Linked DNA regions of Homo sapiens. The main gene of each other region encodes a partner of the protein of the gene in region 2 in a complex. Each region holds a gene or a part of one and is shown on either strand. Other genes may lie near its edges. A codon is read from its position in the direction of its gene.

Region 1 (8,673 bases), on a different chromosome or scaffold from region 2:
GGACCAGCTGAACTGGGGCAGGACTAACTCCCTCTGGTGAAAATACAGGAACCCAAACACACAAGTCAGAGCAGGAGGTGTCTCCCCCACCCCCAAACAATAATGCTGACCTTGGATTTGGGTTAAGTGCCTAGCCCAGCGTGTGAGTGTTGAGTAAGTGGAAACCATCATCACCATCATCAGGTAATGGAAAACCATCAAAGCTTTGAGCTGGCTTGTTAGCCAAGAATAGTACCAGTGTATTAGCTACTACTAATACTCACAGCTGACAATTACTGAGCACTTGCTCCGTGCCAGGAATCACGGAAACACCTCGCATGCATTTCCTCAATACTCCCTCCCAGTAACGGCGAGGACACAAAACTGGTAGAGCCAGGACTGGAATCCAGGCAGGCCCCAAAGCACTCCAGTGGAGCCTGCCAAGGTGGGCAGGCTACCATACTAATGCGGTCCAGTATTTGACCACCACTCCTATTTGAGCAAGTTTAACAGAAAACCTAAAACTAAACCTAAAATCTAAAAATTAGAGCAAATGCATAAAAAGCAGGCTGTTAAAATGGATCATAAATCTTGCATCACTCATTGGAAAACCACTCAAAATAAATGTCTCTGAAACATGGCCTCTGAGGAGGGCACTCCGTGTGGCTTGTATCACCCTGGTGACAAACCACTTGAACCTGGATGGTCATCTGACCATATTTAACAGGTGATGCACAGAGCCATTTGCATCCACTGTGGTCAACATTTAGGAAGTTTTAAGCTGAGATTTGCCAAATTGTAGCCTACTGGATTCCGGGTTCTCTTGACATCTCTTTCTAGTAGCCACGTCTTGCACTTCCCGAGTAAAAACGAACTGAGATGCAAATAAAAAAAAAAAAAACGAGGATTTAAGAATAATGAAAAGAGAAAAACCAAGAAAGCACAATCACTAGTGTAGAGATAACAGCATTTCTGAATTCCCTGAAAACAATCTATAGAAATGCATGTGAAATAATACACCAGCATCTGTGGCCCACACGCCACATATTAGGAACTGATGTCGTAATATAAGGTAAAAATGTTACTCTGAAAACACAAATCCTCACAAATCATTAGGCAGTAAGGCTGAATCCAGCACCCCCCCACCCACAGCGCAGTGAGGCAGTGTCTAGCAGCCGTAGTGCTCCCCGCGCCCCAGTTCAGTCTCTGGCAACTTCAGATACTTCCCACTAATAACAAGAAGCCTTTCAACATTTTCACAACATCTCAAAACTGACCCCTTTTCTAGCTTAAATGGCACGGATCTGGAAAAGCAAACTATACACAGAATCAGAAAAGATGACTGCCCCTGAGGGATTACAGAAAAAGTGGCAGTCAGGTTTCAATGAAGTAAAATGTGTCCAATGATAGCGGAGGGGAGGGGGATCAACTGAGCTGAAACTGGCAAGAACGTAATTCCAGGGAGCTCACAACACGCAAGGACCCGGATTTCCCGCTGCCTGAACGCCCAGTATTCGCACACTGATAAGAACACCTCCCCATAATCCCCTGGCCAGCGCCTCCAACACCCCCAATCCTTTCCCCAGGAACCCAGTCCCAGTTTCTGCAGTTCCTGTAACAGCCACATTCCCATACAAGGGCTGCCTGAGCTCCCCAAGCCCTCCAACAATCACCCCCCAGTGCCCTCGAAGGTCTATTCAGAGAAGTCACCAAGATGCAGTCACCCAGGAAATTCAAGGACCTCCAACTTACCAAAAGGCTTTCGGCTGTACAGAGCTAAGCTTCCTATTCCCCTCCTAAACCTACAATCTAGTTTTCATTTCTCAAGAAGCCTTTCCCTGTGCTCACGCACGCAGTTGTTAGCTGGCTCGGTGAGGCACTCCAAGCAGTAACAGCGGTAGCCACAAAATAAACCAGAAGCATCTCCACTACGAAGCAGTAATAACAATTTGTCCTAATGATTCCTTTGTCCTTGGAAAAACAACTTCAGAAAGTTATCCACTGTGAACAGGGCAGGCTCGCGGCTTCTTGGTCCGGAGACCCAGTTCCCACTGGCCCACTCACCGTTGGAGAGAGCTTGCTGAAGCTCGGTGTCTGATATCACTCCACTCCTGTCTTTATCGACCCTATAACATCAAGAAGACCAAATAAGCTGGCGATCGAAAGTTCAGGAAAAGCAAAACAAACGTCTTCTGTCAACCCTGCACCGACTCTGGAAGGCTCCCTCCTGGAACCTCCGCCTCTCCCGTCCCGCTGAGGAGTACAGCGGAATCAAGGAAGTGCCCCAGGAGCCGACGTCCAGTGTGGTCTTCCCCTAAGAGGACAATCATCTTCACCTCAATCCTTCCCTTCCTTCCTCTCCTGGCCTGTCTGAATTCCCATTTGCACCCGTTTCCCTTTTTCACAGACAAGACAAGATTCCCTCAGATAACTAAGCCATTCCCTGGCCATCAGTCACTACAGTTTCGGACATTCGGTGGAAAAGCGACCAGGGACAGAAGGCGCCGCCATAAAGGTCACCTGGCCCGAGCAGACGCCAGGTCGCTGCTTCTTCCTTGGCTGCTGACATTTTAACAGCGCCCAGGCAGTCTGTTTCCGCTTTCCCCAAACAAGCACCCTGGAGACCCTCCACCTGGCGGCTCTTGAGGCGAGAAAAAGGGCCTAGCCCAGGAGCCGGTGGCCGCGACCTCGGGTCTGCAGTGGCGCACTCTGCATCTTGGGAAGGGCCCGACGCACAGGACAGGGACCGGGCAGGAGGCAGGGGCGGCCCCAGGAGACCGGGCAGCGGACGGGGGAGACCGCGGGGGACCCGCCAGGGGACGGGGGCGGCCGCGTCGGCTGGGGCAGGGGTCGGGGGCGGCGGCAGGGGACGGGAGGGGGCCGCGGGGGACCCGACAGGGGACGGAGGAGGCCGCAGTAGAACCGGCAGGGAACGGGGTTGGTCGGGGGAGTCGGGACAGGGGTCGGGGCCGCCGCGGCGGAGGCGGGAGGTGCCCGGGCGGTGCCAGGCCGCACCTCTGGAAAACGTTCCACAGGAAGCTCTGGTCCGGCAGCGCCGCGCCTGCAGCAGGCCCAGGGCCGGCCCCAGGGCCGGGGCGGTAAGAGTAGGCGGCCATGGGCCAAGGCACGCGGCTGGGCTGAGGCGCCTGCAGCGACGAGAGACCTCTCAGGCCGACTCCGCTTCCGCCTCTGCCGGGGGCAGGGCCTGGCATTATCACCACTTCCGGGGGCGCAGGAAATGCGTGGTCTCCGGGATGGTCACGGGGTCCCGCGCAGCCAATCCCCTCGCAGCTAAGTTGCCAGGCAACGCCCTGGCGCCTGCGGGGAGGGCGGGGTCTGGGCGCCTGGAGGAAGCCAGAGCTTTGGCGCAGGCCGCCTGCGCGCTGTGCCAGGAAAGCGCTTGGAGAAAATGTCCGGCCCCGCGACCTGGGACAGGAAGTGATGGAGCACGGACTTAGTTTGCCTTTCAGTTCTTGTATAAATAGTTTTGAGGTGAATGTGATTTGCTAACAGTCGGAAACTCTGGGCGGGGCGCGGTAGCTCACACCTGTGATCCCTGCCCTTTGGGAGGCGGAGGCGGGCGGAGCTCTTGAGCCCAGCAGTTCGGACCAGCCTGGGCAGCATGGATAGACCCCATCCCTACAAAAATTACAAAAAGTAGTCGGGCGTGGTGGGCTCCTGTGGTCCCATCTACTCCGTGGGCTGAGGCGGGAGGATTGCCTGAGCCCGGGAGGTCAAGGCCGCAGGGAGCCGAGCTCACTGCACTACAGGGGTGGACAGCGAGACTCTGCCAAAAAAAAAAAAAAAAAAAAGAAAGCAAAAGCAGGCCGGGCGCGGTGGCTCACGCCTGTAATCCCAGCACTTTGGGAGGCCAAGGCCAGTGGATTACCTGAAGTCGGGAGTTCGAGACCAGCCTTGGCCAATTGGGAGACACCCCGTATCTACTAAAAATACAAAACTAACCGGGCGTGATGGTGCACACCTGTAATCCCAGCTACTCGGGAGGCTGAGGCAGGAGAATTGCTTGAAACCGGGAGGAGGAGGTTGCAGTGATCCGAGATCGGGCCATTGCACTCCAGGCCTGGGCAACAAGTGCAAAACTCTGTCTCAAAAAAAAAAAAAAAAAAAAGTCAAAACACAATTCGGGTGGGAAAGGCAGTGTGCAGCATTCTCGGTTGTCTGTTCCGCCCCCAAAAGCTTCCCTCCTTTAGGTTTAACCTGCGCCCCCGTGCTCTGCATCAGCGCGGCCCCTGACCCCGTGCAGCTGGAAACACTGCTGGGCCCCTTCACACCCCTGCCTGCTGGGCCCCTTCACACCCCGGTGGTGGTGCAGCCCTGCCTCCCGCAAGACAGCACTGCCTTCGTGCTGGACACAGTTCTAAGGTGGAGCCTGGAGTGCCTGTAGCACAAATCCCGGAATTGGGAAGTGCCCAGCTTTGGGCCACTGTGATCCCTGGGTCTTTCCCACGCGCGTAGTCTCGTGCCGCCTTCCACCCCGGTCCTGTGTCCTGTGCCCCGGTTCAGAATACTACAATTATTCTCATTATTTCATGGGGTTATTTCAGCTTTTCAGTTTCTTCAGTGCCTCATTCCATGAATGCTAACTTTTTTCATCCTCATACTTCCTAGGGTTGTCTCTGAATTTTCACTCAGTTGTCTACCAAGATGTTGAATGGACCCAGAGCCAAGGACGTGGTCTTTTATCAGTGGCACCTGAGACTTTCTTCCCTGTGGACGCAAATCCATTATTCAGCACTCTGGGCACAGCTACAGATCTGATCAGCTATCCATTCTCCAAACTATCTCATCCTCTGTCCCATTTTTCTGTCTCTCTTGTCCACAAGGCATATACCTGAGAGTTTTCAAATTCCTCAGAGAAATTTAGATATTCTGTGGCTTTGGCATTCACCTAATGTGTTAATCTACAAACCTTTTTTACAGTGTGGATTTTTTTTCATGATGTGAATTCAAGTGGTTTCTAATGGTCTCTTCATAAAGTTGTAAACCAAAAGTAAAATTCTAAGGCCCCACCCCATCTGAATGGACCCCTTCTCTGGGCCAGGGCACTCCAAATTAACCTGAAAACCGTTCAGGCCACGACATGAAGTGGGGGCGGGTGGGACATGGCTGACTATGCCCTCCTCCCTTTTGGAATTCAGGGAAAGCCAACACAGACCTTAAGTCTAATGAGAAACACCATCTATTCTCTCTGAAGCCTGCTACCCCAAGGCTTCTTCTGCTGATAAAACTTTGGTCTCCACAACCTCTTATAACCCAGACATTCCTTTCTATTGGTAATAACTCTCAACTAATTGCCAATCAGAACATTTTTAAATCTACCTATAACCCAGAAGCCCCCACTTTGAGTTGTCCTGCCTTTCTGGACTGAACCAATGTATATCTTGAATAGATTTGATTGATGTCTCACGACCCTCTAAAATGCATAAAACCAAGTTGCACCCCAGCCACCTCCTGAGGTCTGTGTCATGGGCGTGGCCACTCTATTTGGCTCAGAATAAATCTCTTCAAGTATTTCACAGAGGTTCAGCCTTTTCATTGACAAAGTATTCATATCACTTGTTGAAGAATCCTTTCTAGAATCTTCCACAGCTCTTTGAGCTGTAGTTTCTGAAGTCCATCTTTATTCTCCCTCCCATCACTGGCTCCTGTTTTGTTCTCCAGAACTCTGAAAATACTAACAACTATGATTTTGTGACCCAATTTGGAAGTTCTTACAGGGAAACCTCAGCAAGAAACAGCTCAGTGCTAGACGCAGTGGCTCATGTCTATAATCCCAGTACTTTGGGAGGCTGAGGTGGGAGGATCACTTGAGGCCAGAACTTCAAGACTAGCTTGGGCTATTTTAAAATTTTTTAAAAGGGGGAGCATCTCAGTGACTGCAGCAGGCCTCAGCCTCCACTCCCAACAGTTAGTTGGGCTCTACCAACTGTTGGCCGAGTCTCCAACCTGGAGTACCACAGCCATCATCACCCATGGCACCCAGGAGTGCTCCGTCATGCTTTCCCTTTAGTTCTAGGGGTAGAAAATGCCTTCATTCAAGAGAGGACACACTTAATGAATGCAACCAGCTAGAATCCACCCTTTTAATATTTAAATATAATCCACCCTTATAATATTTAAATATGTGGCTTTGTTTAATCCTCCCCATGCCAAGGCACCATATCCACATTTTACTGAAGAGAAAACTAGAGTTCAGAGAAGGTAACTTGCCTAAAGCCAAGCAGGCAGTAAGAGGAGATTCAAGCCCAGATCCTTTTGTGCTTTTTCTGCATCATCTCAGGGGCAGCAAGGCTGACTCTTGAAAGGGAGGTTAATTACTATGAAATTAAGGTTTAAAGAAAAAACACCCTGGCCAGGCGCGGTGGCTCACAGCTGTAATTCCAGCACTTTGGGAGGCTGAGGCGGGTGGATCAAGACCATCCTGGCTAACATGGTGAAACCTCGTCTCTACTAAAAATACAAAAAATTAGCCAGACGTGGTGGCAGGTGCCTGTAATCCCAGCTACTTGGGAGGCTGAGGCAGGAGAATGGCGTGAACCCGGGAGGCGGAGCTTGCAGTGAGCCGAGATTGCACCAGGCACTCCAGCCTGGGCAACAGAGTGAGACTCCGTCTCAAAAAAAAAAAAAGAAAGAAAAAACACCCTGCGTGCATACTCATATGAATGTACAAATGGATGAGTCTAGAACAAGAGATACTAGCCTGTTACATACACAAACTATGCAGCTGCAGTCCCTGCTGCTTCTACAACCCTGACCTCTAAGAAACCTCTAGCTCTGAATCCTGTCAGTACCTGGGCTGTGCTGCTTGGGACAACATTGTCTTCACAAGTCCTCTCCACATTCTCAGAGGTGGGGGTATTGCCAATGATGGGGGTTGCTGCCTGAGTCCCGTCACCAGGGGACAAAGCTACAGCAGAGACCACCATCTGCCAACAAAAAGAGAGATCATCTCCCACCCCTGGTTCTGCTGACCCAATCACTGGAAGCATCAAGGCACCACTATCTCCTCATCTGCCTCAGATTCAATTTCCTCCTAGCCAGGTCTGTTCTAAGCTCTCCAGAAGTTGAGAAATTAACTGAAAGATAACACTTTCCTCCCTGCATTAAGGTTCATCACATAATGTATCCAAATACTGGGTCAGTCTTTCCTTTGGTCTCGTTTCTCTCAGCTAATTTGAAAATGCCTTTTCTGTTTTCATTAGAATTTTTCTAAATGTTTCTGGGCACTTGTGTTCCTGAGGCTTTCCATAGTGCACCCTCTTATGCATCTGATGTCTTTGGCACATATAGGCCCTCAACAAGTATTTGTTAAATGAACAGATAACCATCCTGTCCTTTGTGTGAACAAGCATATGCAAGTGTACATTGTATCTGTACATGTATCCAACAGCATCCATCTGAAGCCACTTTGTTCGCTTATTTTCTCAGGATGACTGATGGCTGCATCATGACATTTGCACACAGAATCTTTTCTTCTCCAGTCACTTTTCCTTTTTCCAGATTCCCGCCATAGAATTCCAGGGACAGAGCCAACCATGCCTGGCACCCCCTCCTGTCCTGGGACAATGATACTTTCTCCCGTGACTCCCATCTTCCTTCCAACATTCTTCTGCTAGAATTCAGTAAGGAAGACAATGACTTACCACTTTTAATTTTTTCCCCTTTTTTGCTTTTCTACCAAATACTGCTTTTAACACAGGCTTTTCACTGAGTAGTGGACAATCTATCAGCTAGGTGCTATTCAGTGTGAGGGGCATTTGCAAAGGTCTGCATCAGTGCTGGCTGATGGAACTTTCTAGTGATAGCATCATTCTGTAGCTGCACTGTCCAGTGCAGAGGCTACTTGCCACTGTGGCTACTGCTCAGGATGGTGCAGGTCTGAATATCTTAGACACAGCGGCCACCGTGTCTACTGCACGGGACTGAATATTTTAGACACAGCGGCCACCGTGTCTACTGCACGGGACGGCGAGGGTCTGAATATCTTACAGACAGCGGCCACCGTGTCTACTGCACGGGACGGCGAGGGTCTGAATATCTCAGACACAGCGGCCACGGTGTCTACTGCACGGGACGGTGCAGGTCTGACTGTCTTAGACACAGCTCACCTTTGATCCGTGTTAGGAATTATCCACATCTCCTCTCTGGGCAATATTCTACTTTCTTTTTATATTGACCCAATTATTTTACTTCTTTGGTGTGTCCTTTCTCCTCACACACATGGGTTCACTTTAAAACCTTGAAACCCACATTTATAAAACATTTTCAATATGAAACATCGTTCCATGACTCATATAGTACTCCATGGAGTACTATAAACATTTACATTTCCAGACCACCCACTGCCCAGTGGTTTTCCTGGTCTCAGTACTCATGAAAATGGTCTGAAGGTTTGTTTTGGGTTCCTAAGCAGTAGACACACACACAACACTGCCTGTCAGTTATTTCTTGGAAACTAAATCAGCCCTTCTGTTGCCATCCTATCATGCTTCAGGGGTGCCTGTGCTAGTTTTTAATTCTTTGTCCTAACACTTAAATGTTTGCTCAAACGCCCATATTAATACTTCCTCTTAGTTTACAAAAGGATTTACTTTCTTACTGGTTGGGATGAAGCTGCCTGAGGTTGCCACCTGTTACTTTTCCTTCATTTATTGGACCAAGTCATCCCATTAC
Region 2 (7,877 bases):
TTAGAAAATGTCAAACTATCCAATGTACTCATAAACAAACAAACAAAAAAAGCTCCAAATTATATCTAAATTATTTTATGGCATCTAATGACATAAAAAAATAAAGATACCTAAAAGGTTCAGAATTTAATGTGCTCTATGGGTAAGTGCCGAAAATATATTAGCTCATTTTAGCAGTACCTAATCAGAGGAAGAGATGAGGCCAAGAAGTCAAATATTACAAGTTCACAGTGATGAAGCTTCCAGCAGGAAAAATTTTTACATTCTAAGAAAAGTTAAAGATGAATTAAAAAGTTGCTGCAATGGCCGGGCACAGAAGCTCATGCCTGTAATCCCAGCACTTTGGGAGGCCGAGGCAGGCAGATCACGAGGTCAGGAGTTTGAGACCAGCCAGACCAACATGGTGAAACCCCATCTCTACCAAAAATACAAAAATTAGCCGGGCTTGATGGTGCATGCCTGTAATCTCAGCTACTCGGAAGGCTGGGGCAGGAGAAGTGCTTGAACCCAGGAGGCAGAGGTTGCAGTGAGCCGAGATCACGCCACTGTACTCCAGCCTGGGCGACAAAGCGAGACTCCGTCTCAAGAAAAAAAAAAAAAAAGTTGCTGCAATGTTTTAAAACAGCTAGCAAAGCAAAACCACCAGTATATCATGGAATAAGTTCCTTGATTAACCAATCTCTCTTCATCATTAATAATATCCAACATATTTATTGGGAATTTTATGATTTTCCCTTAGAGGAAAAAAAACAAAACATTCCTTCTAACATGACTGATTAATAAAAAAACAGGATTTGACTTCACAGAAATTTGATTTGTTGTCAACTCTGACAAACAATATAGGAATACCTACAGCAGAAATACAACATGTTCATCACAAGTCAATCACATACTTACTCTGTTACTATGGTCACTGACTTTGATGATTGGCTCATTTTTTCTAAGATCCCATACAGTGGCCCGGCCACTGGGACTGGCTGATGCTAAAATATGCTGAACTTGTCTGTTCCATGCAATGCAGCTGATATCTTCTGGCGGCTACAAGGAAGAAACAGTTAATAAAAACTGCTTGTTTCTCTATTATAATCAAATTTAACTGTAAAATTGGATCCTTCATTTTGAAAAGTGTATTACTTAAAAATCTGATCCATTTATGCCACAAATTTGCTTTATAGTCCTACATCTCTACATTCTCAACACATAAAATTATATGACTTAAAATGCAGGTACATACCACTTCAAGTGTATTATCTTGTTTCATAATATCTCATTCAACAAGAATTTTATTGAATTTCTGCTATAAACCAAGTACTGTTTCTTTACTTTGCAACTGCTGCAAGGTAGATTATGGACCACAAAGTAGATGTTGGTGACTATGACAGAAAACTAGGCAGGGCAAAATTACAGCCTAGACCATTAGCAAAATACCTTTATAAATGGTAGTGCATATGCTGTCATTATGCTACCTCTCAGATTGCCAAAATGTTAGAGCCAGTTACAATGGCTACTCAAGTTGGATAGCCTATACAACATAAAGAAACTCAGGGAAGAACAGGAGAAGACTGTTGTTACCAAACTTAATAGAAATACACAAGCAAAGGGCTTGAGGTATTTATTTTAAACCTTGTCTTCCATGGTCTTGTCTAAGTGTGTTTTAAGAAGGTTGGTTGTTGCCAAAACACAGAGCAACTATCACACAAAGAACAAAAATAATTATACTATATCTAAGACAATTATTAAGGATTTTTGTTCATTTTGTTTACTACTGTATGCCTAGTACAATGACCAGTGTCTACCAGGTGGTAGGTACTAAATAAATATTTACTCTTGATGGACTCACTGATACTTTGAAGAAACATATTTATTAATTACTGAAGAAAAATCAGTAATATCTAAACAATGATTTTAAACATATATGTTTTGTGTGAGAAGCCTTAAAAGTGAAATAAGTAGGTTTAGGAGAACTACTTTTGGCTTTTTTGATTACAATGATCAAAATCAATATAAAAATACCTGTGTTTTGGCTCCTGGTGTCATTGGGGTTGCAAAATTATTTAGATCCCATATGTAGATTTCAGATTCATTAGCACCAGAAGCTACCAGATTAGTCTGCAAGAAGAAACCATAACTAAATAGCACTTATGAATAATTAAGAAAATTCAGAATAACTCAGTTCAGAGCTAGAAAGATATTAGATGTAGCATACACAATTTTTCTATTTAATTTGAAAAGTGAAAAACATATGCATGAATTTCTAAATTATGCATAATTCTTTCAAAATTTAAAGTTTTCTAGAAAAACATAAAATTCTACTTAACAAAGACAAAAGATGTCTACTGAGAACAAATTAATTTTAATGCAAGATATTATTTTAAAAATTATATGGATAAATTCTTTTTTTTTTTTTTTTTTTTGAGATGGAGTTTTGCTCTTGTTGCCCAGGCTGGAGTGCAATGGTGCAATCTCAGCTCACCACAACTTCCGCCTCCCGGGTCCAAGTGATTCTCCTGCCTCAGCCTCCCGAGTAGCTAGGATTACAGGCATGCACCACCACTCCCGGCTAATTCTGTATTTTTAGTAGAGACGGGGTTTCTCCATGTTGGTCAGGCTGGTCTCAAACTCCTGACCTCAGGTGATCCACCTGCCTCGGCCTCCCAAAGTGCTGGGATTACAGGCGTGAGCCACCAAACCTGGCTGGATAAATTCTTAATCAGTCATGCAACCATGTGAGGATTACTGTTTGTATCTTTGCATCTCTGGAAGGAGATTTAATTATAAGATTAAAAAGGTCATCAATTATTGCTTTCAGAAAAAGCTGAATCCTAAAACTGTGGCATCTTTCTCAGGATACCTCAAAGCCAGCTTCCAGAGCTGAATCAATACAGCACTAGTAAAATCTCTTGTCATAACTCTTCACATATTTCTAGTTCATATACACTCAATCTTATTCCAGGTGGCAATATTTCTAGGTTTTCTCTGGTACATACCTTAAGGGTCAAAAAGAACCTGAAATTGTAATATAAAGTACAGGAAGATAATGGGCTTCATATACTGACCTTCATCCACTACTATTTACTCTTACAAATTATTCTCTATCAGTTGGCATATAACTAAAAAAAGGGAGACATTCTATGGTAGTAGCTACCTATAACACAAAATACTTTATTAAAAATCATCAGCTGTTCAATACAATTAACAAAGGAGTTAGCTAAAGAGCAGATACCACAAACTATAGAAACGAAGGCTGGGCACAGTGGCTCATGCCTGTAGTCACAGCACTTTGGGAGGCTGAGGCAGACAGACCACTTGAGCCCAGGAGTTTGGGACCAGCTTGACCAACACGAAAAAACCCTGTCTCTACAAAAATTAGCCAGGTGTTGTGGCTCATGCCTGTAGTCCCAGCTACTCAGGTGGCTGAGACAGAAGACTTGCTTGAGCCCAGGAGGTCAAGACTGCAGTGAGTCATGAGCCACTGCAGTCCAGCCTGGCAGAGGGAGCAAGACGCTGTTTCAAAAAACAAAAAACAACAACAAAAAAGAAATAAACAAGTTGGGTTTCTGTATTGCTATACCCTAAGTATCTATTTATAATATAAGAAAAGGAACTATTTAAAATTTTCTTAATACTCATTTTTGGTTGTTATAATCTAGTATCCTATTAACTCAAGGTCTTTTTTTTTTTTCCAGACAGGGTCTCTATGTGTCACCCAGGTTGCAGTGCAGTGGTGTGATCATAGCTCACTGCAGCGTAGACCTCCCAGGCTAAAGCCATCAACCTACCTCAGCCTCCCGTGTAGCTGAGACTACAGGCGTGTGCCACCATGTTCTGCTAATTGTTTGCATTTTTTGTAATGACAGGGTTTCACCATCCTGTTCAGGCTAAGATCGTTATTAAGCTGTGCATTTATATAATTAACAACCAGAAATGTTTATGAAGGCAACAGTACAAAGAATCTTAATTGACTATTTGTTAAATCTGCATTACATTTCTTTTTTCTTTTTTTGAGTTTTGCTCGTTGCCCAGGCTGGAGTGCAATGGCACGATCTCAACTCACTGCGATCTCCGCCTCCCGGGTTCAAGCGATTCTCCTGCCTCAGACTCCCGAATAGCTGGGATTACAGGTGCCTGCCACCATGCCCGGCTAATTTTTGTATTTTTAGTAGAGACGGGGTTTCACCACGTTGGCCAGGCTGGTCTCGAACTCCTGACCTCATGATCTGTCTGCCTCGGCCTCTCAAAGTGCTGGGATTACACAGGTGTGAGCCACATGCCCAGCCATTACATTTAATTTCTAATTATTTCATAGAGTATTAATCTCTGTCATAAACATAAAATTTCTCAATTAATAAAACAGTGAATTAACCTGGACATCACAGCACCAGCCTAATGCTGACCTAGCATGAACTTTTAAAAGGCAAGGTTTCCAACCTATAGGGATCTTAATGTTTATAAAATGTCTAATCAAATGGCGTGACATCTTCAGACTTAAACCTATTAGCCAGCTGGGCACAGTGGCTCACGTCTGTAATCCCAGCACTTTGGGAGGCCGAGGCGGGCGGATCACAAGGTCAAGAGATCGAGACCATTCTGGCCAACATGGTGAAACCCCATCTCTACTAAAAGTACAAAAATTAGCTGGGCGTGGTGGCAGGCGCCTGTAATCCCAGCTACTCGGGAGGCTGAGGCAGGAGAATCACTTGAACCCAGGAGGCAGAGGTTGCAGTGAGCCAAGATCATGCCACTGCACTCCAGCCTGGTGACAGAGCGAGACTCCGTCTCAAAAAAACAAAAACAAAAACAAAAACAAAAACCTATCAGCCGGATCCTTTTCATGGAGGTAGTATTTTTAACCCTGATCTCAACTCTGAACCCACCATTCTTTAAACAAACACTCGTCAACCTGTATAGCCACAGTTTTTTAACTTTCAATTCCAAAACTGAGGCATAGTAGATTCATATACTGATTTCAAATGAGCAGCACATAGTCTAAGAATTATGAAATGTTAAAGTCTTAACCTGGAAAATGTTCACATCCAAGGCTCTCACTGGGCCAGTATGCTTGTCATTCTGGGCAATCACAACTTCCTTGTCTCCAGCTATAATTTTAGAAGGATCATAGAGAATAATATTTCCATTTTCACCACCTGCAATCAGAACTCCAGAGACATCTCCTTTGGAATCCATTTTATAAGGCCCCCAAATCAACTTGTGGTACCTACAGGAGAAAATGAATAAAATCATTCATTCTTAAAGTCAAATAAATGTAGACAAAAAATTGAAATTATACACTTAATTTTTAATGTTTTCATAAACAATCCAAATATATTACTTTCCCACCACTCCTGGTAACTATGTATGACTTTGGTGTAATAGTATTTCATTTTTTATTTATACTCATATTTGCATATGTGATTTTGTAATCCTTAAAGAGTAAAAACTCTTGTAAGGTAGTGTAACAAAATATACTTGAGTTGTGTGTCAAAAAATATGAGCTTAAGAATGATTTTACCATTTAGAAACTGTGAGACCCTAAGTTACTTAATCTTCTTAAATTGCCTCTGGTTCATTGTAAAATAGAGCTAATCAATCACTTCCCTCGAAAGGTAAAAACACTCTTTATTTGACTATAGAAGGGTCTCATGCTTTGACCTTTGTCTGAAAAAAAAAAAAAGGGGGGGTCACTAACAAGTGGTCTGTTAAATAGTAAAGGTGTTAAAGGAGTCATGTGAAATTTTCTAAGAAAAAGAATGTATTCTAATGGTAGAAAAATGACATCAAGATTATAACAAGTACCCCTACTATTAGAGAATAAAATATATGGTCCAGAATGGAGATGAAATATGAAGGCAGAAAGGTATACGATGATACAGATGGTAGTAAGCAGAAAAACTACTAGACAAAAGGTATCTGGGGTTCCCATCCCACTGTGACAGCTCTGAAGAATATGAGCGGTCCCATGAAACTGCATGATTTGAGCTATATTCTGTCAGCTAAAGAGCAATCTCTTTAAACCCTGCTAATATATTGAGGCAATAAAGCTTATTTTATTACTGAAATGAAGACCTCCTTTCTCTGCATTACAATAGGGCATAAGTACTTGAAAGTATGATCCAAATACCTAGTTACCTAGTGTATTAGAAATCGTGTCAACAAAACTGTGAGATATATTTCTAAATATCGTAACAGAAGAAAATAAAAATAAGCTACCATTCAGAGATAATCACTATTAATACTTACGATGACTACTCCTTTTCTAGTCACATCTACCTTTTTGTAAACAGGCACAATAAAGGAGATAGAAAAAAGAACTCTATACAAAATTAGCCAGGCATGGTGGCACATGCCTGTAATCCCAGCTACTCGGGAGGCTGAGGCAGGAGAATTGCTAGAACCTAGGAGGCAGAGGTTGTGGTGAGCCGAGATTGCGCCATTGCACTCCAGCCTGGGCAACAAGAGTGAAACTCCATCTCAAAAAAAAAACAAAAACAAAAAAAACCACACACACACCAAAAAAACAGAAAAAAATGCTAGAAACTACAGCCTCTCCTTCCTACCTTACATGTAACAGCAATAAAAAAGCCAACAGAACATACTGGCCAAGCGTGATTCCTCATGCCTATAATCTCAGCACTTTGGGAGGCTAAGGTGGGTGGATTGCTTGAGGTCAAGAGTTCAAAACCAGCCTGGCCAACATGGCAAAACCCTGTCGCTACTAAAGACACAAAATTAGCTGGGCAAGGTGGTGTGCACCTGTAATCCCAGCTACTCGGGAGGCTGAGGCACAAGAATTGCTTGAGCCTGGAAGGTGGAGGTTGCAGTGAGCCGAGATCGTGCCACTGCACTCCAGCCTGAGCTATGAAGTAAGATTCTGTCTCAAAAAAAAAAAAGAAAAAAAAAAGTCAATAGAACACATAAACACTACTTTTACTTCCATAAAAATTCACTCACATGCTTTTTCACAAAATATTTCATGTTCTTGATGGTATTCCTTGTAGTTTCTAATAATGGCATAATTATAGACAAATTAGGAATCAAGAACAATATATAATTAAATAATCACATGAATTTAAAGCTGAACCTCATACCTGTGAGAAGAGGAGAATGTGGCACAAGATTTCATATCCAAGGATGGATCAGAGAGGTCTAATTCAAATATCTCAAGGGAAGCATTCGTACTAAATGTTGCATCCAATTGCTGAGCAGATGTTCCTATAGAAAATATATTTATGGTAACTATACACACAAAAATAAAAGATCAGAGAAACCATACAAAACAGAAGTTAAAAGCATGTTTTCCATTCTCTTGCTCATGAATGCTGCACATATGCCATTGAGCAGATGCTTAAATTACTATAGCAATGAGATTCTGGCACAGGGCTAGGAGAGGATGTTTATAAGAGTGGGTAGTGTAAATAATTTTTTAAGCCTGTATATATTTAAAAATCTCTGTAAAAATGGTCCCGTGATGGGGGCTGGGCACGGTGGCTCATGCCTGTAATCCCAGCACTTTGGGAGGCCGAGATGGGTGGATCATGAGGTCAGGAGATCAAGACCATCCTGGCTAACATGGTGAAATCCCATCTCTACTAAAAATACAAAAAATTAGCCAGGCATGGTGGTGGACGCCTGTAGTCCCAGCTACTTGGGAGGCTGAGGCAGGAGAATGGAAGGAACCAGGGAGGTGGAGCTTGCAGTGAGCAGAGATCACGCCACTGCATTCCAGGCTGGGCGAAAGAGCAAGACTCCATCTCAAAAAAAAAAAAGTCCCGTGATTTACTATATCTGCTTATAGACATATATGATATAACTATTTCTTTTTATATAAAAATGCTAACATCAAAATTGCTCTTCATTCATTCAAACTGATATTAACTGTT

The links.
Region 1: the proteins of SEC31A (region 2) and PDCD6 are in contact, whole or in part, in a crystal structure (PDB 3WXA), measured with the Homo sapiens proteins. Residues at the interface, in NP_001070675.1 of Homo sapiens: Asn837, Pro838, Pro839, Pro840, Pro841, Gly842, Phe843, Ile844, Met845; in NP_037364.1 of Homo sapiens: Val31 (codon at 3,005), Val35 (codon at 2,104), Leu48 (codon at 2,065), Ala51 (codon at 2,056), Leu52 (codon at 2,053), Ser53 (codon at 2,050), Asn54 (codon at 2,047), Gly55, Thr56, Trp57, Phe85, Trp89, Ile92, Gln96, Phe99, Phe148.

Annotation. Positions count from the first base shown.
Region 1 is NC_000005.10:266,143-274,815, reverse strand, and holds the start of PDCD6 (programmed cell death protein 6), read right to left. Parts: upstream 3,171-8,673; 5' UTR 3,096-3,170; coding exon 2,995-3,095; intron 2,106-2,994; coding exon 2,044-2,105; intron 1-2,043. UniProt on the Homo sapiens protein: Calcium sensor that plays a key role in processes such as endoplasmic reticulum (ER)-Golgi vesicular transport, endosomal biogenesis or membrane repair.
Region 2 is NC_000004.12:82,873,714-82,881,590, forward strand, and holds part of SEC31A (protein transport protein Sec31A), read right to left. Parts: intron 7,210-7,877; coding exon 7,086-7,209; intron 5,216-7,085; coding exon 5,017-5,215; intron 2,110-5,016; coding exon 2,014-2,109; intron 1,039-2,013; coding exon 898-1,038; intron 1-897. UniProt on the Homo sapiens protein: Component of the coat protein complex II (COPII) which promotes the formation of transport vesicles from the endoplasmic reticulum (ER).